Linked DNA regions of Homo sapiens: regions 1, 2, 3 and 5 are each linked to region 4. Evidence: fine-mapped expression QTL. A gene starts in region 4. Each other region holds a variant in brackets. All regions are shown on one strand. Distances are between the middles of the regions. Region 1 overlaps HABP4 (hyaluronan binding protein 4). Region 2 has its middle 37 kb from the start of ZNF510. Region 3 overlaps CDC14B (cell division cycle 14B). Region 4 holds the start of HABP4 (hyaluronan binding protein 4). Region 5 has its middle 8.0 kb from the start of ZNF367.

What was found. PIP is the estimated chance that this variant, and not a neighbour inherited with it, causes the effect. A credible set is the group of variants that fine-mapping cannot tell apart.
Region 1: its variant is the best candidate, but not a certain one, in a credible set for the expression of HABP4 in whole blood (TOPMed, PIP 0.85).
Region 2: its variant is the best candidate, but not a certain one, in a credible set for the expression of HABP4 in whole blood (INTERVAL, PIP 0.56).
Region 3: its variant is the best candidate, but not a certain one, in a credible set for the expression of HABP4 in left ventricle (GTEx, PIP 0.57).
Region 5: its variant is the best candidate, but not a certain one, in a credible set for the expression of HABP4 in whole blood (INTERVAL, PIP 0.85).

Annotation. Positions count from the first base shown.
Region 1 is chr9:96,478,347-96,483,453 of GRCh38, forward strand. All of the region lies in intron 5 of HABP4 (hyaluronan binding protein 4), which reads left to right. Among named protein-coding and RNA genes, the nearest start is that of HABP4, 31 kb to the left of the region's middle. The variant G/A (reference allele first, on the strand shown) is at 3,126.
Region 2 is chr9:96,738,245-96,743,351 of GRCh38, forward strand. No RefSeq gene overlaps it. Among named protein-coding and RNA genes, the nearest start is that of ZNF510, 37 kb to the right of the region's middle. The variant C/CT (reference allele first, on the strand shown) is at 2,547.
Region 3 is chr9:96,544,324-96,549,430 of GRCh38, forward strand. The region is part of intron 5 of CDC14B (cell division cycle 14B); the gene reads right to left. Among named protein-coding and RNA genes, the nearest start is that of CDC14B, 73 kb to the right of the region's middle. The variant C/T (reference allele first, on the strand shown) is at 2,564.
Region 4 is chr9:96,447,542-96,452,648 of GRCh38, forward strand. HABP4 (hyaluronan binding protein 4) reads left to right here and starts at 2,628. Exons shown (of 8, transcript NM_014282.4): 1 at 2,628-3,087. The coding sequence starts at 2,739. RefSeq lists an enhancer at 2,046-2,125 and silencers at 2,406-2,945, 2,956-3,015, 3,096-3,145.
Region 5 is chr9:96,423,803-96,428,909 of GRCh38, forward strand. No RefSeq gene overlaps it. Among named protein-coding and RNA genes, the nearest start is that of ZNF367, 8.0 kb to the left of the region's middle. RefSeq lists an enhancer at 1-204. The variant A/G (reference allele first, on the strand shown) is at 2,164.

The DNA of each region.
Region 1 (5,107 bases), 31 kb after region 4:
GGTCTCGAACTCCTGACCTTGTGATTCGCCCTCCTCGGCCTCCCAAAGTGCTGGGATTACAGGCGTGAGCCACCGTGCCCGTCCTGAACATTTTAATATACAAGTGTTTATATGGATATACACTTTCATTTCTCCTGGGTAAATACCTAGGAGTGGAATGGTTGGACCAAATGGTATGCGTATATTTCACTTTGTAAGAAGCTGCTGAACTCTTTTCCAACATCCTTGCTAGAACTTGCTATGGTCAGTTTTTATAACTTTCAGTCATTTTAATAGGTACATATCTCATTATGGGTTTTTGTTGTCATCGTTTTTTTTTTTTTCTTTTTTTAGAGACAAGATCTTGCTCTGTCACCCAGGCTAGAGTACAGTGGTGTGATCATAGCTTACTGTAACTTCGAACTCCTGGTCTCAAATGATCCTCCCACCTCAGCCTCCTGATGTCCAGCTTATTTTTTACTTTTTGTAGAGATGGGGTCTCGTTTTGGTACCCAGGCTGGTCTCCAACTCTTGGCCTCAAGTGCTGCCTCGGCCTCCTGGAGTGCTGAAATTACAGATGTGGGCCACCGTGTCTAGCTTCATTGTGGTTTTAATTTGCATTTCCCTAATGACTAATAATGTTGAGCATTTTTTGTGTGGTATTTCCCATCTGTATTCTTTAGTAAAGCTGCTTTGATAAAGAACCACTGCCACCAGGGACTTGATTGTTTCCAGGGCATTTGGGTGGACAGAGATGGGAAATACACACATACACATTATAAGATAAAATATGAGTTCATTCAATATTTCCAATTCGAAGTTAAGATATGGGATTTTTACCTAGACTGCTTGTTTCTCCTTTTCTTACATACTGAAAATTCTAGTTCTGAGTAACATTGTGCTTTTAATCATTTGTTGCACATAAAACAGTCACAGCATTACCAACATTACCTTCAGTAACACAGTTACTGAAAAGTTATGTCGAGGAGGGAGATGAGTAATCAAATTTGTATTTCAAAATCATTTGAAATAGTTCTCTTGATGGTTATATCACCAGTTTCATAAACATTTAGGTTACTTTGATTCATTTTACTTTCAAATTTTAGAGATTGAATTTTAATTTAAATCTGTTTTATAATTATGTAAAATATTTACATGTTTCCAAAGTTCAGTCTGAAAAACATGATTTTTTTTTTTTCTTTTTGAGATGGAGTTTCACTCTTGCCGAGCCTGGAGTGCAGTGATGCAATCTCAGTTCACTGCAACCTCCGCCTCCCGGGTTCAAAGCGATTCTCCTGCCTCAGCCTCCCGAGTAGCTGGGATTACAGGTGCCTGCCACCATGCCCAGCTAATTTTTGTATTTTTAGGAGAGACGGGATTTCACCATGTTGGCCAGGCCTGTGTCGATCTCCTGACCTCAGGTGATCAACTGGCCTTGGCCTCCCAAAGTGCTGGGTTTACAGACAGGAGCCACCGTGCCCAGCCAAAACATGGTATTTTCAAATAGCTTTTATCCCTATTGTTTTCCTGGCTTATATTCCAATTTAAAAAAAATGCTGGCCGGGTGCGGTGGCTCATGCCTGTAATCCCAGCACTGTGGGAGGCCAAAGTGGGTGGATTGCTTGAGCCTAGGAGTTTGAGACCAGCCTAGGCAACAAGTGAGACCCTCCCCCACCCAGTCTCTACAAAAAATACAAAAATTAGCTGGGTATGGTGGTGCATGCCTGTAGTCCCAGCTACTCTGGAGGCTGAAGTGAGAGGATCCCTTGAGCCCAGGAGGTGGAGGTTGCAGTGAGCAGAGATCATACCACCGCACTCCAGCCTGGGTGACAGAGTGAGACCCTGTCTCAAAACAAAACAAAACAAAAAAACTATCTATCTCTATCGGTGCTATGCATATATATTTGTGTGGCTCTCCAAGGTACTGTACACCCCTCCTTGCTTTTTTCTCATTCACTCTGGAAGGTGCTCCATAGCAGTATATACAGATAGTCCTCATTCCTTTTTTAGCTGCTATACTATAGTTTTTTCACCAAGTTCTTTTCTAGATAGGTTTGGGTTATTTCCATTAATTTGCTGTTCCAATGTCTTAGTATCTTTTAATATTTTTGCCAATATATATTTGAGATCTATATTTTGATATTGGTATTTTTCCAGCATTTTATTGTGAAAATTTCAAAACACAGCAAAGTTTAAAGAATTTTATAGCGAACATCTATACTTACCACTACCTAAATGCTACCATTTATATCTTATATATTCATTTTACATAAGTATTCATTAGTCCATGTTTTTTGACACATTTCATAATAAATTGTAGACATCTGTACACTTCCCCCTAAATAGTTCAACATGCATATCACTAAATAGAATTAATATTTGTTTACAATTTTTTCTTCTGATATAAAATGTATATACTATGAAATGTATAAATCTTAAGTGTACATTCACTGTTTTGACAAATGCATGTACTTGTGGAATCCAAACTCCTGTCGAATACAGAACATTACCAATCACGCCAGAAAGTTCTTTCATATTCCTTCATGTTATCTTTGCTTTGATGTTTTTTCTACCATCAGCTTGGTATTGTAGAGTCACTGCAAATTTGTCTATTTTGGATGCTCTGTGGTTAGGTTTCTCTACTGATTTTGCTTATATTTTTCATAACATTGATCTGTGTATTTCTATAATAGAACCTTAAATTACATCAGCTCTTCAGTGAAGATACAGATTTGATTCCCCACTCCCCACCTACTGTTTTGTTTTGTTTTGTTTTGGAGAAAGAGTCTTGTTCTGTCGCCCAGGCTGGAGTGCAGTGGTGCCATCTTGGCTCACTGCAACCTCCGCCTCCCGGGTTCAAGCAATTCTCCTGCTTCAGCCTCCCGAGTAGCTGGGATTACAGGGATTACAGGCGTGTGCCACCACACCCAGCTAATTTTTGTATTTTTAGTAGAGACGGGGTTTCACCATGTTGGTCAGGCTGGTCTTGAACACCTGACCTCATGATCCACCTGCCTCGGCCTCCCAAAGTGCTGGGATTATAGGTGTGAGCCACCGCGCCCGGCCTGTTTTTTCCCCTTAAACACTTTTGAGATATAATTCTCGTACTATAGCACTCAAATCTCTAAGTATATAGGCCAGGTGTG[G/A]TGGTTCAGATCTGTAATCCCAACACTTTGGGAGGCAGAGGCAGGAGGATAGCTTGAGGCCAGGAGTTCAAGACCAGCATGGGCTACATGGAGAGACCCCGTCTCTACAAAATGGTTGTAAAAATTAGCTGGGCCTGATGGCTCGTACCTGTAGTCCCAGCTACTCTCAGGAAGCTGAGGTGGGAGGATCCTTGGGCTCAGGAGGTTGAAGGTATGGTGAGCCATCATCATGCCACTGTACTCCAGCCTGGCCAACAGAGTGAAACCCAGCCTGTATCAAACAAATAAATGAGTAAACGACTGAATGCATGGATGGATGGTTTGGGGTATGTTACATTATTAATTTTTTAAAATTGCAGTAAAAATAACATAAAAATTGCCATTTTTACCATTTTAATATATATAATTTAATGGCATCAGTAACATTCATATTGTGTGTAACCATCACCACCATCCATCTCTAGAACTTTTTTTTTTTTTTTGAGATGGAATCTCACTCTGTTGTCCAGGCTGGAGTGCAGTGGTGCGATCTCGGCTCACTGCAACCTCCACCTCCCGGGTTCAAGCGATTCTCCTGCCTCAGCCTCCTGAGTAGCTGGGACTACAGGCACATTCCACTACACCCGGCTAATTTTTCTGGTATTTTTTAGTAGAGACGGGGTTTCACCGTATTGGCCAGGCTGGTCTCGAACTCCTGACCTCATGATCCGCCTGCCTCAGCCTCCCAAAGTGCTAGGATTACAGGCTTGAGCCACTGTGCCTGGCCTTGTAGAACTTTTTCATCACAAACAGAAACTCTATATCCATTTAACACTAACTCCCCATTTCTCCTCAGCATGTAGTAATCTCTATTTTACTCGTGTTTATGAATTTGCCTATTCTAGGTGCCTCATCTAAGTGGAATCGTTCAATGTTCCTTTTGCACCTGGCTTATTTTAACTATTAGCATCAAGTTTTCAGCTTCATTCATGTTGTAGCATGTGCCAGTCTTCATTTCTGTTTTTCTTTTTTTGTGTGTATTTTTGTGATGATTTTCAAATCTACGATTTTAATCCTTTTAAAGTGTACAATTCAGTGGCATTTAGTACATTCAGAGTGTTATGCAACCATCACCATGATCTGGCTCCAGAAGGTTGTTATCATCCCAAAAGGAAACCCCATGCCCATTCAGCAGTCACTCCCTATCCTCCCTCCCTGCAGCCCTGGCCACCACTGACCTGCCTCCTGTCTGTGTGAATCTGGCTCCTCTGAATATTTCATGTAAATGGAATCATACACAGAAGTCTTTTCTGCCTGGTTTATTTCACTTGCATCATTTTTTCAAGGTTTGTTCATGTCGTAATGTGTATTAATACTTTGTTTCTTTTTATTGCCAGATAATATTCCAAAAAATGTGCCATATTTGGTTTATCCACTCATTAGTTAATAGACATTTAGGTTGTGTCCACTTTTTGGCTATTATGAATAGCACTGCAGTGAACACTTGGGTTTAAGTTTTCATGTGGATGTGTGTTTTCATTTCTCTTGGGTATAAACCCAGGAGTGAAATTTCCGGGTCAGAGGCTAACTCAGCTTAGATTTTTGAGGAACCGCCAGACTGCTTTCCAAAGAGGCTACACCATTTCACATTCCCACTGGCAGTGTATGTGGGTTCCAGTTTCTCCACATCCTCCCCAACGCTTGTCAAATGTCGTTTTGGTTCTAACCATCCCACTGGGTGTGGACTGGTGCAGCTCTGTGGTTTTGACTTGTCTTTCTCTAATAGCTAATGATGTGCAACATCTTACTGCCTATTTGTATATCTTCTCTGGAAAAATGTTCACTCAGATCCTTGCCTTTTTTGGGGGGAGGGTGGTCATTTGTCTCAACTAAAGAGGACTTGTATCTAGAATTCATAAAGCATTCTTTTTTTTTTTTTTAAAGAGACAGTGTCTCATTCTGTTGCCCAAGGTGGAACACAGTGGCCATTCACACGTGTGATC
Region 2 (5,107 bases), 290 kb after region 4:
CTCACAAAGATCAGAAATCCTATAAATGTGATCAATGTGGGAAATTTTTCAAAGAGTTTTCAGTTGTAAAAAGCCATCAGATAAATCCCACAATGAAGAAATCCTATAAATATGATGTAGTAGGGAAGATTTCTACCAGAAGTAAAAACATGAAAAGTATCAGAAAACTCACTGGGATTAAATTTATAAACATAATGAGTGTGGAAAAGCTTTCAGCCACACATTAAACCTTGCACTGTATCAGAGAACTCACACATGTGAATGGGCCTGCCGGTGTCATGGATCTTGGAGTACTTTTAGGCAGAAATCACACTTCCAAGAACATCAGAGAACTCATGGGAGGAATTCTATAAAGGTGATGAATGTAGGACAACTTTCAGCCACAAGTCAGAGCTAAGAAAAGACTGGAGAACTCAGACAGGGGATGAAAACCTATTTACCAAATGAACGTGGAAGTTTCTCACTAAACATGTAACTTTTTGTTTTGAGACAGCGTCTTGCTCTTCTTCCAGGCTGCAGTGCAGTGATGCAATCATGGCTCACTGTAGCCTCAACCTTTGAGGCTCAAGTGATCCTCCTGCCTCAGTCTCCTGAGCAGCTGGGGTTTCAGGTGCATACCACCATGCCTGGGTAATTTTTAAAAAATGTTTTTCTTAGCGTCTCACTATGTTGCCCAGGCTGGTCTCAAACTCCTGGGATCAAGGGATCCTCCTACCTCAGCCTCACTAAGTGTTGGGATTACAGGTGTGAGCCACTATGCCCAGCCAACATAAGAGAACTTTCACTGGAGGGAAAGCCTTGAAATGTATTGCATGTGGATAGTCTTGTAGCCACTAAGTATAAGCTTAGTCCGTATTGGAGTCAGATAATTCACCCAGGAAAGAAACGCTATGAAGGTAATGAATATAGAAAATATCCTATGTGAACTAAACCCTTATAAACTTACACTATGGAGGAATCCTGAGAAAGAAATGAAAAGATGGATGCTTTCTGTCCTTGATTGAACGTCATTGAGCAGAGAATTTAAACGATGGAGAAAACCTAGGATGTAATAAATGTATGGTAATCTCAGCTCAAACCCACCTTTCTCAGTGCAACAGAAAATGTATACAGGCTGGGTGCAGTGGCTCGTGCCTGTAATCCCAGTGCTTTGGGAGGCTGAGGCGGGTGGTTTACCTGAGGTCAGGAGTTCAAGACCAGCCTGGCCAACATGGTGAAATCCCGTCTCTATTAAAAATACAAAAATTAGCCAGGTTTGGTGGTGGGTGCCTGTAATCCCAGCTACTCAAGAGGCTGAGGCAGGAAGAATTGCTTGAGCCCAGGAGACAGAGGTTGCAGTGAGCTGAGATTGTGCCACTGCACTCCAGCCTGGGTGACACAGCAAGACTCCATCTCAAAGAAAATGTATGCAGCAGTAGAGACCTCATAGTATATCAACCAGACCAAATAAATCATATGAAGGTAATGGATGTGGGAAATCCTTCTTCCAGAATGCAGCCACACAATGTGATATATATATATATAAAGTAAATAAAAGAGACCCCTATGGCACCTACTTGCGTGTTTGCATATTCTTGTGTGTTCACCAAGAACTATTTCCTTTTGTCCCTAGGCCAACAACCACTCTTCCATCTATATGGGGTAGTGGAATGTGGATTTCAGTGGTAAAACAAGTCCTATGAGAGATATCTTCATTCTATATGTTTTTTTGCTCTCCTTGTTCCTATACTAGAGATGAAAAATACCACATGGAAGGAGCCAAGGTTCAAGAATCACTGTGTGGAACAGTTTCCTCATCTTACTTCTCTGGCAGCCTTTTATGAGGAATAAACAAACTTGTTCTCTGCTGAGCTGTTATAGGTTTGGGTCTACTTGTTACTGACATATCCTAGACATCCCTCAGCTGATACAAGCTAAGAATATGACTTCCTTGAAAAGCGTGAAGTTGATATGTGTCTTAGTCCATTTGCATTGCTATAAAGGAATACCTGAGGCCGGGTAATTTATAAAGATAAAAGGTTGATTTGACTCATGGTTCTGCAGGCTGTACAAGAAGCATGGCACCAGCATCTTCTTCTGGTGAGGGACTCAGGTTGCTTCCACCCATGACAGAAGGGGAAGAGGGGTAGCAGGCTTCACTTGGAAAGACGAGGAAAGAGAGAGAGAAGGGAGGTGCCGGGATCTTTTTGACAATCAGATCTTGTGCAGCCTAATAGAGTGAGAACTCACTCATCAAGTTGATCACGAGGGATCCACCCCCATGACCCAGACACCTCCCACTAGACCCCACCTCCAACATTGGGGATCAAATTTCAACATGAGATTTGAAGGAGGCAGACGCCCAAACGATATCAAAAGCCTCATGGGAGAAACCCCTGACAACATCCTGACTGATCATTAGCTATTGCCCACAACTCTTCATTACTCATCTGGTAAATGACAGGATTTGTCTGATGTTGCCTTGTGATTACATTTAGGTTATCTACCTTTTGTAGACATACAGCATAAGTAACAGAAGTGTTGAGATTTCTTTTCTTTTTTCTTTT[C/CT]TTTTTTTTTTTTTTTGAGACAGTCTCCCTCTGTCACCCAGGCTGGAGTGCAGTGGCCGATCTCAGCTCACTACAACCTCTGCCTCCCAGGTTCAAGCAATTTTCCTGCCTCAGCCTCCTGAGTAGCTGGGATTACAGGCGCTTGAGCTCAGGAGTTCGAGGATGCAGTGAGCTATGATGGCGGCACTGCAGTCTAGTCTGGGTGACAAAGCAAGACCTTGTATCTAACAAAATTAGAAGAAAAATCTTGTGAGGAGATATGTTCAGGCTATGCATGTATCCTCTCAATCCTCAAGTCACTACTCATTACTTTTAGTGTTTACTCCTGATCATTGCCCAAGTCACTTATTACCACAGTCGCAAAACCTGTTATTTTTAGTTCCATTATTCCTCACGTGTTTATCATGGTATAGAAAATAGTTTTCTTTTTTCCAGCATTTATTATTTATTTTTATTTATGTCTGTATAGATTCAGCTTTCTGTATTCAGTGGGTTATAATGCTTAGCTAGTATGGTTGTTTGTTTTTTATTCTCAAATCATCTGAGACGAAGCCTGTGGGGCATTTAAATTGTTCCTGTGTCCTTTTGTCATGTTTCTGGTATCTTTTTGCTTTTACCAAACCATTCTTGTACTTGTTTTGATAATTTTGATTTTTCCTTACAATGTTTAGAATTCTAAGCCCCTCTTAAGAAATCCTTTAAGATTGTGATTAGAATTTCATTTAATTTTGTCTCAATCAGGTGCCCATAGGTATAACCAATTCAATGCACTGGCCTAGATTCCTTCTGTGGAAACCCAGAGACACAGTCTAGCCATATGGGGCTCAGGCCTTTCCTAGTTTCCCTCTGTGCTGACCAATGTCCAGAGAATACTCCCCACCCAGTACCACATCACCCACTAGGGAATGTTTTCCGGGCCCTAAATGTTTTTAATGCTCCTTTTTTTCCCCCCTCTCTGCTTTATAGATCTTTTTTACCTGTGTCTAAACTTTTGTTCCAACAAATGGTAGGATCACCTGGAGACCCTGGAGGAATTAGATTTCCTGCTCACCTCCTTCTTTAGGCTCCTTATGTCACTACAGGCACATAGGCAGCCTGTTTCCGCAGGGTTTCCACACTGCTGCGTGTGGTGACTCTGCAGATGAGGAGCATTTTCACGCTTCAGCACTCACCCAGCACACCTTTTTCTTTCCTGTCTGTTGTTTGAAAGAATGATACTGTATCTTAGCTGCCTGTCTAGTTGACTAAGTGAATAAGTGTCTAACTATTATCAACCATATGTGACCTGACAGAGTGACAGACAACCCAGCTGTGTAACCACATAGATGGAGGGAACTTAGGGAGTGTTGCCAGGATAAATAGCTGCTTGCTTCTTTATCAGTTTAGGCTCCTCTGCATTGTGGAGCCCCTTACTCTGCCCTCTTGAGCACAGTTTTTAGTGTCAGGTAACTAGGCAATAAACATTCAGAACCACCTGCAGCCCACTGCTAACTTGAGTCCCATAAATGAGCTACAGGGAATTCATTAGCTGCCTGAGATATTCAAATTTATGGCTGTAGGTGGGTGTGCGCATACTTCTGGCATGAAGATTCATGGTTTTTGTCACATTTTCAAAATGATTGCTACTCTAATGATGCAAAATTGTCAAGAACTTTTGCTCAGGAGAGACCCCTAGGAAGCTCATGAATAACTTTCTGTTATATGTGCAGGTTTCTGGGAAGATAGTGCATAGCTGTTTTCAAAATTTCTAAATATTTAATAACTTAGTTACCTATTACCTATAATTTTTTTATATGGTTTGGCTGTGTCCGCACCCACATTTCATCTTGAATTGTAGTTCCCATAATCCCCATGTGTGGTGAGAGGTATCCAGTGGGAGATGATTGAATCATGGGGGCAGTTTCGCCCATGCTATTCTCATAATAATAAGTTCTCACAAGATCTGGTGGTTTTATTATTTTTAAAAATGTTTATTTATTTTTTTGAGACAGTGTCTTGCTCTGTCACCCAGGCTAGAGTGCAGTGGCATGATCTCAGCTCACTGCAGCCTCTGCCTCCTGGGTTCAAGCGATTCTCCCGCCTCAGCCTCCTGAGTAGCTGGGACTACAGGGTTGTGCCACCATGCCCGGCTCATTTTTGTATTTTTAGTAGAGACAGAGTTCCACCATGTTGGCCATGCTGGTCTCAAACTCCTGACCTGAAGTGATTTGCCTGCCTCGGCCTCCCAAAGTGCTGGGATTACAGGTGTGAGTCACCGCGCCTGGCCAAGATCTGATGGTCTTATAGGGGCTTCCCTCTTCACTTGGCTCTCATTCTTCTCTTTCCTGCCACCATGTAATTAGAAGGACGTGTTTGATTCCCCTTCCACCATGATTGTAAGTTTCCTGAGACCTCCCTTGCAAAACTGTGAGTCAATTAAACTTCTTTCCTTTATAAATTACCCAGTCTCAGCAGTGTGAGAATGGACTACTACAATTTTCATCTGCTGCTCAGAAGTGACCTCCAAGAAACTTACATTTATTATGTTCAACCCCCATGTTCCATTTCACAGCCACTCCGAT
Region 3 (5,107 bases), 97 kb after region 4:
AAACTAAACCACATTTTAAACTTTTAATTCTTGCTCAAACCTTAAGGGCCAAAACTACAGCAATGAGGGCAAGAAAAGGCATCCTTTTTAGCTAAAATCGTCTTCAATGTTACTGACTGAGCTGCTTAGAATTACTGAGCTATGCGAACCTTCATGAGGACAGAATGCAGGGTCTTGTTTTCTTTTTTTGAGACACGGTCTCACTATGTTGCCCAGGCTGGAGTGCAGTGGTGCAATCATGGCTCACTGCAGCCTTGACCTCCTGGGCTAAAGCGATCCTCCCACCTCAGCCTCTGGAGTAGCTGGGACCAAAGGTGCACACCACCAGGCCTGGCTAAGTTTTCGTATTTTTTGGTAGAGTTGGGGTTTCACCATGTTGCCCAGGCTGGTCTCGAACTCCTGAGCTCAAGCACTCTGCCTGCCTCAGCCTCCCAAAGTGCTGGGATTACAGGTGTGAGCCACTGCGTTCAGCCAACACAAGGTCTTAGAACACACCATTTTTGTTCTGTAAGGTTCTGAAGTGAAAAACTTCTCTTCCACATCCTAGAAAAAGTCTTTAACCTAAAAGGCCACGATTTTACCAACACTTTATTGGCAATATTCAGAAAGAAAAAAACAAAAGGACTTCCAGCAGTGGTCCCCAGGCCAGCAGCACCAGGACCACCCCACCTGTTAGAAATGCAAATTCTCAGGGCTACCCCACATCTACTGAATCAAAGTTCTCGGGATAGGGCCAGGTAATTTGTGTCTTAACAGGTCCTCTAGTTGTCTGTGATTGTGTTCAAGTTTATGAATCACCAACCTACAAATCAACACAAATCCTGGTTTTGTAGAAATAGGGTGTTCATGGAATAAAGAACCCATTTAGGTAGAGAAACTAAGGCAGGAAAATGAAGTACTTTAGCCTAAATCAAATCAAAATTATCAATGGAAATGGGGTAAACCCTCAAGTTGGATCCCAATGATTTTAACCATGTCTTCTCTGTGAAGGAGTATGATTATTTTCTTTTTTTTTTTTTTTTTTGACAGTCTCCCCCTGGAGTGAGTGCAGTGGCGCGATCTTGGCTCACTGTAAGCTCCACCTCCTGGGTTCACAACATTCTCCTGCCTCAGCCTCCCAAATAACTGGGACTACAGGCGCCTGCCACCACGCCCAGCTAATTTTTTTGTATTTTCAGTAGAGATGGAGTTTCACTGTGTTAGCCAGGATGGTCTCAATCTCCTGACCTCGTGATCCACCTACCTTGGCCTTCCAAAGTGCTGGGATTATAGGCGTGAGCCACTGCGCCTGGCTTGATTATCTTCTTAACCTACTGATAATCTTTTCCAATCAAGTTAAAGACATGTTGATTCAGTCTCTGTGACATTTTGGCAAATTTCTTCAATGCTTTTTTTTTTTTTTTGAGAACCTACTGTGGGGCACAGCCCCGCTCCAATCTGTGATGATTTCACACGCTTTCATCTGGGCCCTGCTGAAGTCCTGCCTCATACATCATAGAATCTGAATATACGACAAGAATCTTTGCTCACTCAAGTGTATTTCATTAGCACCTCCAATTTTAGACACACCCACATCACATCTTCCTCCCACCTTGCATTCAGCCTTCTTCCAATAGGCAGAACAGCAACTCTGAGGCTCAGTTTATAAGCCTTGGGCAGTGGGGAGGGATCCTTGTCACCAAGATCATTTAACAAATTTGGAAAACACGTAAGAATCAATAAATGGGCACTGCTTAGAAACTGCACAACAATGTCAAATACTAGTTTTAAAGAATGGCAGCTTTCGTAACAGCTCGTATTCACCACGGCCAAAAACTACGAATGACCCAAATATCCATCAAAAGGACCACAGGCAAATAAATTGTGGTATACTCATAGACTGGAATGCTACAAAAGGAATAAAAAAGGATGAACTACTGATACCTTCCACAACACAGGTAAATCTCATAGACATTACATATGTGAAATCCAGTTGACAGCTCCCCAAAATGCATACCAGTAATATCAAGTTCAAAGGCAAGCAAAACTGATAGTGGTAGAAGTCAGAGCAATGATTAGCTGGGGGTGATGACTGACTGGAAAGGGGTGGGAGGGAAATCTAGGAGACAGAGAATTTTTTTTTTTTTTTGCGGGGAGTGGGGTGGGGACGGAGTTTCGCTCTTGTCGCCCAGGCTGGAGTGCAATGACACGATCTCAGCTCACTGCAATCTCCGCCTCTCAGGTTGAAGTGATTCTCGTGCCTCAGCCTCCCAAGTAGCTGGGATTACAGGTGTGCACCACCATGCCCTGCTAATTTTTGTATTTTTAGTAGAGACAGGGTTTTACCACGTTGGCCAGGCTCATCTTGAACTCCTGACCTCAGGTGATCCACTTGCCTCAGCCTCCCAAAGTGGCAGGATTACAGGCGTGAGCCACCGCGCCCGGCCACGACAGTGATTTTTAAACATGTAGGTAAATGGCCGGGCTCGGTGGCTCATGCCTGTAATCCCAGCACTTTGGGAACCTGAGGCGGGAGGATCATGAGGTCAGGAGATTGAGACCATCCTGGCTAACACAGTGAAAC[C/T]CCGTCTCTACTAAAAATACAAAAAATTAGCTGGGCGTGGTGGCAGGCGCCTGTAGTCCCAGCTACTTGGGAGGCTGAGGCAGGAGAATGGCGTGAACCCAGGAGGCGGAGCTTGCCGTGAGCCAAGATCGTGCCACTGCACTCCAGCCTGGGCGACAGAGCAAGACTCCGACTCAAAAAAAAGTAGCTAAATGACAGTCAACTTAAAAGGGGGAAGGTTGGAATATTTAACAAATATTAGTTAAAGGCCAGGTACTATATCAAGTGTTTGTTTTTTTTTTAAGAGACAGGGTCTTGGCCAGGCACAGTGGCTCATGCCTGTAATTCCAGCACTCTGGGAAGCCGAGGCTGGTGGATCACCTGAGGTCGGGAGTTCAAGACCAGCCTGGCCAACATGGCAAAACCCCATCTCTACTAAAAATACAAAAAATTAGCCAGGTGTGGTGGCGGGCACCTGTAATCCCAGCTACTCAGGAGGCTGAGGCAGGAGAATCGCTTGAACCCAGGAGGTGGAGGCTGCAGTGAGCCGAGATCACACCAATGCACTCCAGCCTGGGTGACAGAGCGAGAGTCTGTCTTAAAAAAAAAAAAAAAGATACGGTCTTGTTCTGTTGTGCAGGCTGAGTGCAGTGGCATAATGAAAGCTCACTGAAGCCTCCTAGGCTTGAGGGATCCTCCTGCCTTAGTCTCCCAAGTAGCTAGGACTACAGACACATGCCACCCTGCCCAGCTAATTTTTTTTTCCCCAAAGAGAAATGGTCTTGCTATGCTGCAAGGCTGATCTTCCAAATCCTGGCCTCAAGCTATCCTCCTGCCTCAGCCTTCCGAAGTGCTGGAATTATAGGCATGAGCCACCATGCCCAGCCTATACCAAGTGTTTTATATGCAGGATGTCACTTCATCCTCACAACTCCTTGAGAGAGAATGTATTATTGTTTCTGTTTCTGTTTTTTTTTTGAGATGGAGCCTCGCTCTGTTGCCCAGGCTGGAGTGCAGTGGCACCATCTCAGCTCAATGCAAGCTCTGCCTCCCGGGTTCACAGCATTCTCCTGCCTCAGCCTCCTGAGTAGCTGGGACTATAGGCGCCCGCCACCACGCCTGGCTAATTTTTTGTATTTTTAGTAGAGACGGGGTTTCACCGTGTTAGCCAGGATGGTCTCGATCTCCTGACCTTGTGATCTGCCCACCTCAGCCTCCCAAAGTGCTAGGATTACAGGCGTGAGCCACAGCGCCCAGCCTATTGTTTCTGTTTAAAGACTAGGAGACCAAGGCTCAAATCTGTAAAGGACCACAGAGATGTCAGTAGCAGAGCTGACAGCAAGACTCCCATCTGTCTGATGTCAAGTCAAGCTATTAACAAATATACAATACTACCTCTCAAGAAAACAGGAAGCAGAGGCAAGCCCCACACACACAAAAACAACTAAGAAGCAAAGAGTATTATAACAGATAATACCAGAGAACAGAAATACACACTGTTCATAACAATGATCCTATGATATTTAAAAAAAATTAAACTATATTTTATACTATTTAATTATGCAGACCAGACACAGAGAAATATTTAATATAACTCAATAAGAAATCATATACACACATACACACACACATACATACACACACACTTTAAAACTCAGTGGTTAAAGAAGGCTGGGCACAGTGGCTCACCCCTGTAATCCCAGCACTTTGGGAGGCCAAGGTAGGCGGATCACTTCAGGCCAGGGGGTTGAGACCAGCCTGGGCAACTTAGTGAAACCCCATCTCTACTAAAAATACAAAAATTAGCCGGGCATGGTGGCATCTGCTCTAGAGGCTGAGACATGAGAATTCCCTGAACCTGGGAGGCAGAGGTTGCAGTGAGCCAAGATTGCGCCACTGAACTCCAGCCTGGGTGACAGAGCAAGAATCTGTCTTTAAAAAAAAAAAAAAGAGAGAGAGAGAATTCTATCTAAGTTGAATTAAATCTAATTAAATAAAACATTGCTACAGAACATAAAAGAACTTATTTGCTATAAATGAATGCCATTCTTGCACAACGTCGTGTTAGCAATACTTTGTTGGTCATATTTATTCTATGTACTTAAAGTGGCAAGATACAAAGAATATAATGTCATTTCTATCAAAATATTATCAGGCTTTATTAATTCTGATTGGACTACTTTCTAATTGATAAGTTCTATAGAACACTATGTGAAGAAGCACTAAATTTAAAAACTAAGTCTATCACAGGTTGACACTTTTGTAAGATAAATATGAAATGCAATAGTACTATACTATTACATATCCAGTAATGCAATAATCTTATTTTTGTGAATAAAATAAATTACTAGAAAAATGAAAGGGGAAAAAAAACAAAATACAAGCTCAAATTTCTTCTACTATTTGATTCTACAGACATAAAATTGCTCTATTCGATAACTATAAATGTTTCTAAAATCTTATTCTCAACTTCTGTATTTATCTCAACACAGGCTGGTAACAAAATGTCACAGATCGGCACCAGTTCACAGGCCACACTTTATGAAATCCCAGCACTTTGGGAGG
Region 4 (5,107 bases):
GAAGAAAACAGGGGAGCAGGCTAACTCCAGATGCCCAGTGGGAAGACGACAGGCCCTTCTCTCACATGATCATGATTCCTTGGTGTTGTGGTTTGGTGATGAGCAGTTTAAAGATACCAAAGATAACTTTAGCTTGAAGCAGTGCTTCTCAAAGTGTGGTCTCTGTTGCATGTAGTGATTCTGGTTCATTGAGATAAATTTACTATTTTTACTCTGGTTCATTAAGATAAATTTACTATTTTTACAAAAAATTTACTATTTTTACTAAATTTTACACAAAATTTACTATTTTTACAATTTTAAAGTGTACAACTCAGTGACATTTACTAAATTTACAATTTTGTGCAACCATCTCCACTATCTCGTTCCAGAACATTTCATCACCCCACAGGAAACTCCCATGCCCATTAAGCAGTTACTTTCCAACACTCCCAACCCCCACACCTGGTGACCACCAATCTGCTTTCTGTCTCTATAGATTCTGGACATTTCATATAAATGGAATCATACAACGTGTGGCCCTTTTTGTCCGTCTTTCACTTAGCACAATGTTTTCAAGTTTCATCCCTGTTGTAACAAGTATCAATACTTCCTTTTTGACCAAATAATATTTTTTGTACCACATTTTATTTATCCATTCATCGGGTGACATGTATATTATTTGTTTCTGTCTTTTGGCTATTGTGAATAGTGCTGCTATGAATACTCATGTACAAGTTTTGGTTTGAACACTTGCTTTTAATTCTTTTGGGTAGAAAGCGTAGGCATTAATCTTTGCTCACTCAAAAGGAGATGACCAAATATCTTAAATTCTTCAATCATTCAACAAATATTTACTGAAAACCTACTCTATAGCTGCTTAGAACGCCAAGCACTGGGAATACATACTGCAGTGAATAAGACAGGCATCATCCCTGTCCTCCTTGGGAATAACACAAAATTCAATAAGTGAGTAACACACAGACTTTACAGCATTTAGGATTAGGAATTCCTTTGCTATTAAGGAAAGTAAAAGCTGGTCACAGAGCACCTGGCAAGATGCTCTAACTGGATGCTTTCGGATGAAACAAGCAAACACAACTAAGCGCAATCACATCTGTCACCTTACATCATAAGCCTCAAGTAGGGAGGTTCCCAAGTGGGTCCAGTCGGCAGCTCAACCTCATCAAGGATCTAGCCTTTCTCTATCCTGCTCTGCCATCCTCATGGCCACGCTAAGGAACAGCCACCCGAGGCATCATGTCTTCTCATGGAACAAAGACCAGGGAACAGAAGGGGGGGAGATCCCTTCTCAATCCCTTGTTAGGTGCAAGAAAAACTTTCCCAGAATACTTCTCAGATCTGTTCTGCCCGATTTGCCCCACAGCCTATTCCTAAGCCAATTACTGGCAAGGAATTGGAATCAGGTGCAATGAATAATGTATGATTAATCAAGTTTGAGGCTGGAAGGGGCCCTCTTCCCCTGGGGAATATGATGCCTGAACAAAATACAGGCTCTGGAAAAATGTAAGAGGGAAAGAACGGCTGTAGGATAGGCAGCCAAGCGTGTCTCCACCGCTGCCTATGCAAAGATTTCCTGGAGGAAGTCCAGTCCGGCGTTCTCTAAGCTCCAGGCCTCAACTGAATATCTCAAAAGAAAACAAATATCCAAACCTCAACGTGTCCCAGACTGAATTAATGATTCCCGTTAAAGTAGTGTCTTCCAGTGGTAACTAATACTATCATTCAGATGCTGGAGCCAGGAAAATAAGAGTCACCGTATCTTCTTCTCCCTCATCACCACCTCTAGCGCATCACCAAGTCTTTGAATCCATCTACTCTCTTCGCCTCCACCGCCACCATCCTAATCCCAGTCACTATCAACTCTTCCCTGGAGCTTTGCAACAATCATGTTTGGCTTCCCAGCATCCATTTGTATTTCCCTCCAAACTATTAGTTCACAGTGCAGGTAGGGTGGCCTTTTCAAACCCAAATCTGCTCATGCTCAAAACTTGCTTCCCACTGCTCTTAGAATAGAGACCACTTTGAGCTTGAATAGGCTGTGCACATCCCACCTCAAGACTGCTGCACTTGCTGTTCCTCCTCCAACCCCTTGTCACCCCTCTCCCTCGGCTTAACTGTCATTTCCCAATTAGGTCAGATCCCTTTGCTGCAGCCCGTAGAGAGCTCTGCGCCTGTCCTTCAGGGCACTTTTTCTCCATCTACAGACTCAGATCTGTGACAACACGGAGCTAGTATTTCCTACAACATAATGCCTGGCACACGGTAAGTGCGCAATATGTAGCTGTTGCACGGCTAAATGTATACATAAGCTTCAAAGCAGAGTGGCCCATAGCAAATACGGTCGCAGTCCCGGGAGAAAGCACACACAGCCGAGACCCCACCGCTTCGTCGGCGCCGCCTGGACCAGCCAGTAGCTCCGCCCCTGGGCCCCGCCCCTCCCTGCTGAGCGAACGGGGCGGGGCCCAGAGGTCGCGTGACGTGACAGCAGCCGGTCGGTGATTGGGTCTCCAGGCGCGCCGTGTCGGAAAGGGGGCGCACCCGCGCGCGCTGACTGGCTGTCTGGCGCAGCGGGGCGGACGGCGGCGGCGCCGCGGGGGCGGGCGCCGGTAGGGGCCGGACAGGGTAGGGCCCGGAGGGCGGTGGCGGCGGAGCGGGCGGCATGGGTCCTGGCCGCCGGCTTCGCTGAGACGCGCTCGCGTGGGCTGCCCTCCCGGGCCCGCAGTGGTCGCGGCGGCATGAAGGGCGCTCTGGGGAGTCCCGTGGCTGCCGCTGGCGCCGCGATGCAGGAGAGTTTCGGCTGCGTGGTGGCCAACCGCTTCCATCAGCTGCTGGACGACGAGTCGGACCCGTTCGACATCCTGCGCGAGGCCGAGCGCCGGCGCCAGCAGCAGCTGCAGCGCAAGAGGCGCGACGAGGCGGCGGCGGCGGCCGGGGCCGGTCCCCGCGGCGGCAGGAGCCCAGCCGGGGCCTCGGGCCACAGAGCCGGCGCGGGCGGCCGGAGGGAGTCGCAGAAGGAGCGCAAGAGCCTCCCGGCGCCCGTCGCTCAGCGGCCCGATAGCCCCGGGGGCGGCCTGCAGGCGCCGGGTACGCGGGGACAGCGGGGTTAGCGGACCACGGCTCGGCCCGCTGTGAGACTGGGGTCCCGGGGGCCGGTTTCAGGAGGAGGGGCCCGGGAACAGTAGGGAGAGTTGAGGGTCCTGGTGGCCGCCGAAGGTAGGAGGAGAGGGGCAGGGGTCACACCCCTTCCAGCTCTCGCCAGCCTCGTGCGGGGCTCCGGGGGAAACGCTGGCTTGGGGTGGGATAGGGCCCTCGAACCCTGGCACTGAGGCTCTACGGCAAGTTGGACGAAGTTGAGGGAGGTTGTCTGGGTGGCGTGTGGGGGCGAACGGCTGAGGTCGCTACCCCGGGGCTCCCACATCCAGACCTGGCGGGGACCTTCATCTTCCAGCCCAGCCTCTGCAAGATTGAGGTCGGAGCCACCCGAGAGCGCGGTGGGGAGGAGGAGGGCGCCTGGTCCCGGGGCTGGGGGCCTCTGTGATGCCGGAGGCCTGGGCGACCGCGGGGCGGCCTGTGACGTCGGGGCCCGGGCGGGGGTCCCCGGCGCGGTCCGGCCTGGCGCCTTCGCCCCTTCTCCGTCCGGTAGCTTCCAGGAGGCAGCCGGCATCGTATTTCAGTACTTCGTGTGGTGTTGATGGGATGTGCAACTTATAAATAGCTCAAGGCTGCTTTAAGAAAAGCGTTTTTAACCTTTCCAGCAAGAATATTCGGAGTTCCCCACTCCCTATTTAGCAAGAAAAACCGGTGCGCAGCGTGGTGTCCTGCTGCCTGTGGACGGGGAGGGTGCTTCAGAGTTCATTCTCTCACCGAACTGCGTCAGTGGCAGAGCCAGCAACACTCCACCTGTGTTTCCTGTTTTCTTGAAATGAGGCAGCGGTCCCAAGGTTTGCAGAGTGTTAGGATTAAGATGTGTAGGTTGACCATTCCTGCCGACGTTTGCCAGTGTGTTCAACTTGGCTTTATTGGTTTGTTCCTTGCTTGATAAAAATTGTGCATCGCAGCCCTGAGGAAACGTCTCAGGTTTAAGTATTAGGGCTTTGATGTGCAGCTGGGTAATGTTTACCTTTATTTGTGAAAAGCTAAATCCAGAGTCATCACTTGAGAATCAAGTCACTACAATAAAGATGTTGAAAATGATTTTTAAAAAAATGTTATTTACTATCTCACGACACTTTGGTAGGCCAGTAAATTTCTGAGCCTATCTAAACAGTGAGACTGGAGATACATTGTGCATTTTATATCCTGTTTTTTATCTTTTTCTCTTAAACTTATTTACATCAATATAATAAAGGAATTGAGGAAGGCTAAGCTTTTCTTCACCCTTTATTTTTTAACAAATGAAAATGCCGGGTGTGGTGGCTCACGCCTGTAATCCCAGCAGTTTGGGAGTCCGAGGCGGGCGGATCACGAGGTTAGGAGATCGAGACCATCCTGGCTAACACGGTGAAATCCCGTCTCTATTACAAATACAAAAAATTAGTCGGGCGTGGTGGCGGGCACCTGTAGGTCCAGCTACTCGGGAGGCTGAGGCAGGAGAATGGCGTGAACCCAGGAGGCGGAGCTTGCAGTGAGCCGAGATCGAGCCACTGTACTCCAGTCTGGGAGAAAGAGCGAGACTCCGTCACAAAAAAAAAAAAAAAAAAATTCTGTGCTTCAGAAAAACGTGAGACGAGTTAGTGCTGTTAATACATTGATTTTTAGCCTTTTTAAAATTGTCATGCATTTTTGTGTTAAGAATTTTAAGCAATTCCAAAATGTATGAGGTTAAGTGAAAATCCTCTTATTTTTCCTACTAACACTTTGCATTTATATACATAAATGCACAGAGCTATTTCTTTTCTTTCTAAACTTAAATGATATAAACTGGGTTGCAACCTGTTTCCTGCACTTGATGTTGTCATGTAGTACACTCGTAACTTTTTTTTTCTGTCAGTTGTTAGGTCTAAGTGATCTGGCTTTTGAAATCAACTAAAGGTATTTAGTTGATTTTGTAGTTAGAACGGAAATTTTATCATTCAAGTTCTTTTTCAAGTATGTGTTATTTCAG
Region 5 (5,107 bases), 24 kb before region 4:
AAAGACATGTTCTCCAGGGCACAGGTTTGCAACCCCCGGGCCGTGGACTGTGTGGCCTATTGGGAACCAGCCACACAGCAGGAGCTGAGCAGCGATAAAGAAGTATTACTGCCTGAGCTCTGCATCCTGTCAGACCAGCGGTGGCTTTCGATTCTCATAGGAGCACAAACCCTGTTGTGAACTGCGCATGTGAGGGATCTGGGATCTAGGTTGTGTGCTTCTTTTGAGAATCTAATGCCTGGTAATTTGAGGCGGGACAGTTTCACTCCAAAACCATTCCCTTTCCTCTCTCCATCTGTGGAAAGGTTGTCTTCCACAAAACGAGTCCCTGGTGCCAAAAAGGTTGGAGACCGCTGCTCCAGGGCACAGTTGCAAGTTTGCACAGGCCCTGCTATGTGACTGAGTCCCACAAAAGACATTTTGTAACAAGAGGACTAAAATATCACCCAAACTTTAAACTTGGGGCCCACGTAAACCTCAGATAAGGTAGTCTTCCCCTCATGGGAGCACGGTAAAATCTTCTTGGCTAACAGATAACTTGACTAACTATAAACAAATCATTTTTAGCTGCTTAACCACATTAGGGATAACCTACCAAACCTCCTTCAACCTGAGATCACCACATTCCTAGTAATATAGGGACTTTGGGCCTCCAGAATTGTCAGTGAGACAGCTTGGGAATGACAGTCCGATTCAGAAGGCTGTCCCAAGGACTTGCCTTGAAACTATCTTTCCATAGCAAGTATATATATGTACATATATATATGTGTGTGTGTATATATGTACATATATATATAATTTTTTAATTTAAGAGATGAGGACTATGTTACCCAGGCTTGAGTGCAGTGCCTATTCACAGGCACATCATAGCTCCCTGCAGCTTCAAACTCCTGGCCTCAAGCAATCCTCCTGCCTCAGCCTCCTAAGTAGCTGGGACTCCATGGAGCCTAACTACAAGCATGATGTTTTTACTTAAAGTATAAGTTATGTACCAATACAAAATAGTAAATAGTAAATACTTTTGCAAAACTTACACAAGATTGAGAAAGTTTCTGTTACTCCTACAAATGAATTCTACTATTATTGCTCACCTCTGGAATTGCTTTTGGTGACACAGGTGGTGATTTGGGGGACTGACCCATCTTCTAAGCATTCCTTGACACCCCCACTGTCTTCAAGGATCTGGAGGTTGGACCATTTGACCCTTCTGTAATCTTGAAAGTGACTGAGTGGGCCAGGTGACTCTTGCCTGTAATCCCAGCACTTTGGGACACCGAGGCAGGCTGATCACATGAGTTTAGGAGTTCAAGACCATCCTAGCCAACATGGTGAAACCCTATCTTTACTAAAAATACAAAAATTAGCCAGGCGTGGTGGCGCACACCTGTAGTTTCAGCTACACGGGAGGCTGAAGTAGAAGAATCGCTTGAACCCAGGAGGCGGAGGTTGCAATGAGCTGAGATTGCACCACTGCACTCCAGCCTGGGCAACAGAGGGAGACTCTGTCTCAAAAAAAAAAAAAAAAGAAAGAAAGAAAGGAAAAAGAAAATGACTAACTGACTGAGTGACTGTGAGGTACTAATATTGGTTCTCTTATGCTCCACAAAAACATCAGTTTCATTATCTTAGACCCACAATGATCAATTATCAGCTGGATATGGAATCAACTTTAAAATAATATGTGGCTCTACACTGTAAATTATACTAATTTGACTTGTTAGAATAAAATCCAAAGTAGATTTAAATGAAGCAGTTTAATTAGGACAGCAGATTCATAATACTTTCAAGAAGCACTTAAGTCTTATAAGAGGTCATTGAACTGACTCTTGGGACAGCTTCCCGTTTTATCACACTTAGGATCTGCGGGTATCTCGAGTGCCCTAGTTGTAAGCTTGTGCCAAAGGTAGTCAGTACATTTTACATCCAGGAAGACTTTCCACTGTGGTATTTCATCATGTTTATTGCCATTTAATTAAGGTAAGTAAGGACATAGACATTTTTAGTTTAAATTCTATTCCTCCTCACTTCTGTGTGTCAGAGGTCAACTTTGGAGAGTGGGTTGTCAGTACAATTATTGTTGTTTTTCTGATATTCTGTCTTTTACTTTTTACTCTGAATTATTTGAGGCTTACAGAAAAGTTGCAAAAATAGTAAATTTTTCAC[A/G]CATACCTCACTCAACTTCCCCTAATGCTGGCATCTTATATTACCACAACCACGTATCAAAACCAGGAAATTAACATGTGTACCATATTATTTATTAAACTACACCCCTTATTCTATTTTAATCTTTTTCTTTTTTTCCACTAATGTCTTTTTTTCTGTTCCAAGATCCTGTCTGGATCTTACATAGCATTTAGGGATTATTTGTCCTTAGTTCCCTGCAGTGAGTAACAGTTCTTCAGTGGCTCAGTGGCTCCTTGTTTTTCCTTTTTTTTTTGAGTCAAAGTCTCACACTATTGCCCTGGCTGGAGTGCAATGGTGCCATCTCGGCTCACTGCAACCTCTGTGTCCCGGGTTCAAGCGATTCTCCCACCTCAGCCTCCCAAGTAGCTGGGATTACAGGCACCCATCACCAAGCCCGGCTAATTTTTTGTATTTTTAGTAGAGATGGGGTTTCACTATATTGGCCAGGCTGGTCTCGAACTCCTGACCTCGTGACCCGCCCGCCTCAGCCTCCCAAAGTGCTGGGATTACAGGCGTGAGCCACCACACCCAGCCCCTTGTTTTTCATAATTCCGAATTGGTCAGAATTACGAAATTGGCTGGGCGCCAATGGAGAATCCTTTCTCCATTCTACGGAGAAATAATATTTCATTGTATAGCTATACTATATTTTGCTTATCTATTCATCACTTGATGGATATTTAAGTGGCTCCCACTTTTTGCCTATTATGAACAGTGGTGCTGTGAACATTCGTGTGTCTGTTTTTATGTCGATATATGTTTTTATTTTTATTTTTGGTTATACCTAGGTGTGGAATTGCTGGGTCATAGAGCAGCCGTGGGTTTAACATTTTGGGGATCCGACTTAACTTTTCCAAAGCAGCTGCACTCACTCTGTTACCCAGGCTGGAGTGCAGTGGTGTAATCATGGCTCACTGCAGCCTCAACCTCCCGGGCATAAGCAATCCTCCCACCTTCGCCTCCCAAATAGCTGGGACTACAAGTGCACAACACTATGCCCAGCTAAGTTTTGCATCTTTTTTGATACAGACATGGTCTCGCCTTGTTGCTCAGGCTGGCCTCAAACTCCTCAGCTCAAGCAATCCACCCACCTCAGCCTACCAAACTGCTGGGATTATAGGCGTGATCCACCGTGCCAAGCTGTCTCTTAATTTTTTTTAAGAATTCTATATATATGAGAACATTGCCCTTTTGTCTGTAGTATATGTTGTGAATATTTTCTCCCAAGCTGTCATCAGTTGTCTTTTGACTTCATTCATGAAATTTTTATCACATGACTTTATTTAAAAATTTATCTTTATCCTTGTGATCTGAAATGCCACCTTTTTCATATACTAAGTTTCCATATGTATTTGGGTCTAACTTTACATTCTGTTCTACCAGTCTGTTTGCCTGGGTTTTTGTTTGTTTGTTTGATTTCTGTTTTTTGTTTTTTCGAGACAGAGTCTTGCTCTGTCGCCCAGGCTGGAGTGCACTGGCGCAATCTCGGCTCACTGCAAGCTCCACCTCCCAGGTTCAAGCGATTCTCCTGCCTCAGCCTCCCAGGTAGCTTGGGACCAGAAGTGTTTGGGATTTCAGATTTTTTTGGATTATGGAATTTTTGCATATACATAATGAGATATCTTGGGGATGAGGCTTAAATCTAAACATGAAGTTAATTTACATTTCATGTGCACCTTATACACGTAGCCTGAAGGTAATTGTATACAACGTTTTAAATAAAAATAAAGGTGTGTGTATGTTGAACCATCAGAGGCGAAGATGTCACTATCTCAGCCACCAATGTGGACATCCCCATGCTTCCTGACTCTGCATTTATATGATACCAATAACCAATCATTTTCTTAAACTCACACATACGTACTTACCAGTAAAAAATATGACATTTCATTAATGCAGTGAAAAAATAATGTGTTCAGGGCACCCAAGATAGCATCACCAGATACCTGCATCAGTGGCTAAACAACAGCAGCTTCTGGTCTCTACCTATGATACTACCTTTTGATTGAAAGGCTGTACACTGTATCTTCTTTTTTTCAGTGAAAAAAAAAAACATCAGTAGCAGTTAAAGGATCAGGAAGTGGGTCCCATAGGGGTGAGGAGGCATCTGCTGGATGGCTTTTGAAAATGTTTCATTCAGCATCATCTGCCTCATTAACAACAGTTTCTGTCTTTTTTTTTTTTTTTTGAAATGGAATTTCACTCTTGTTGCCCTGGCTGGAGTGCAATGGCGCGATCTTGGCTCACTGCAACCTCCACCTCCCAGGTTCAAGCAATTCTCCTGCCTCAGCCTCCTGAGTAGCTAGGATTACAGGCATGTGCCACCACGCCTGTCTAATTTTGTATTTTTAGTAGAGACGGGGTCTCACCATGTTGGTCAGACTGGTCTCGAACTCCCAGCCTCAGGTGATCCACCCGCCTCGGCTTCCCAAAGTGCTGGGATTGCAGGCATGAGCCATCACCCCGGCCAGTTTCTGTCTTAGACGTCTCTCTTGATTTTTATGAATTGACATGATTTCTTGTTTGGTTGTGAATGCACACTGCCCTAGTTTTCAATAAGCCCATCATACATTTTCACCAGGTCCTCTATAGGTGCTTTTTCTATAGTGTTAACATCATCATCTTCACTGTCACTGTTATCACGATCACCTTGGTTCAGAACCAACTCAGATATTTCACCCTCAGTTAGTGAAGGAACAAGGCTCATTAAAAACGTCTTGAATATCCACTTCTTCCAGCTCTGACACAGACTACATATATATATGTATATATATGTATATATGTATATATGTATATATGTACATATGTATATATGTATATATGTACATATGTATATGTGTATATATGTATATATATGTATATGTGTATATATGTATATGTATGTATATTGTGTATATATGTGTATATATGTATATATATGTAT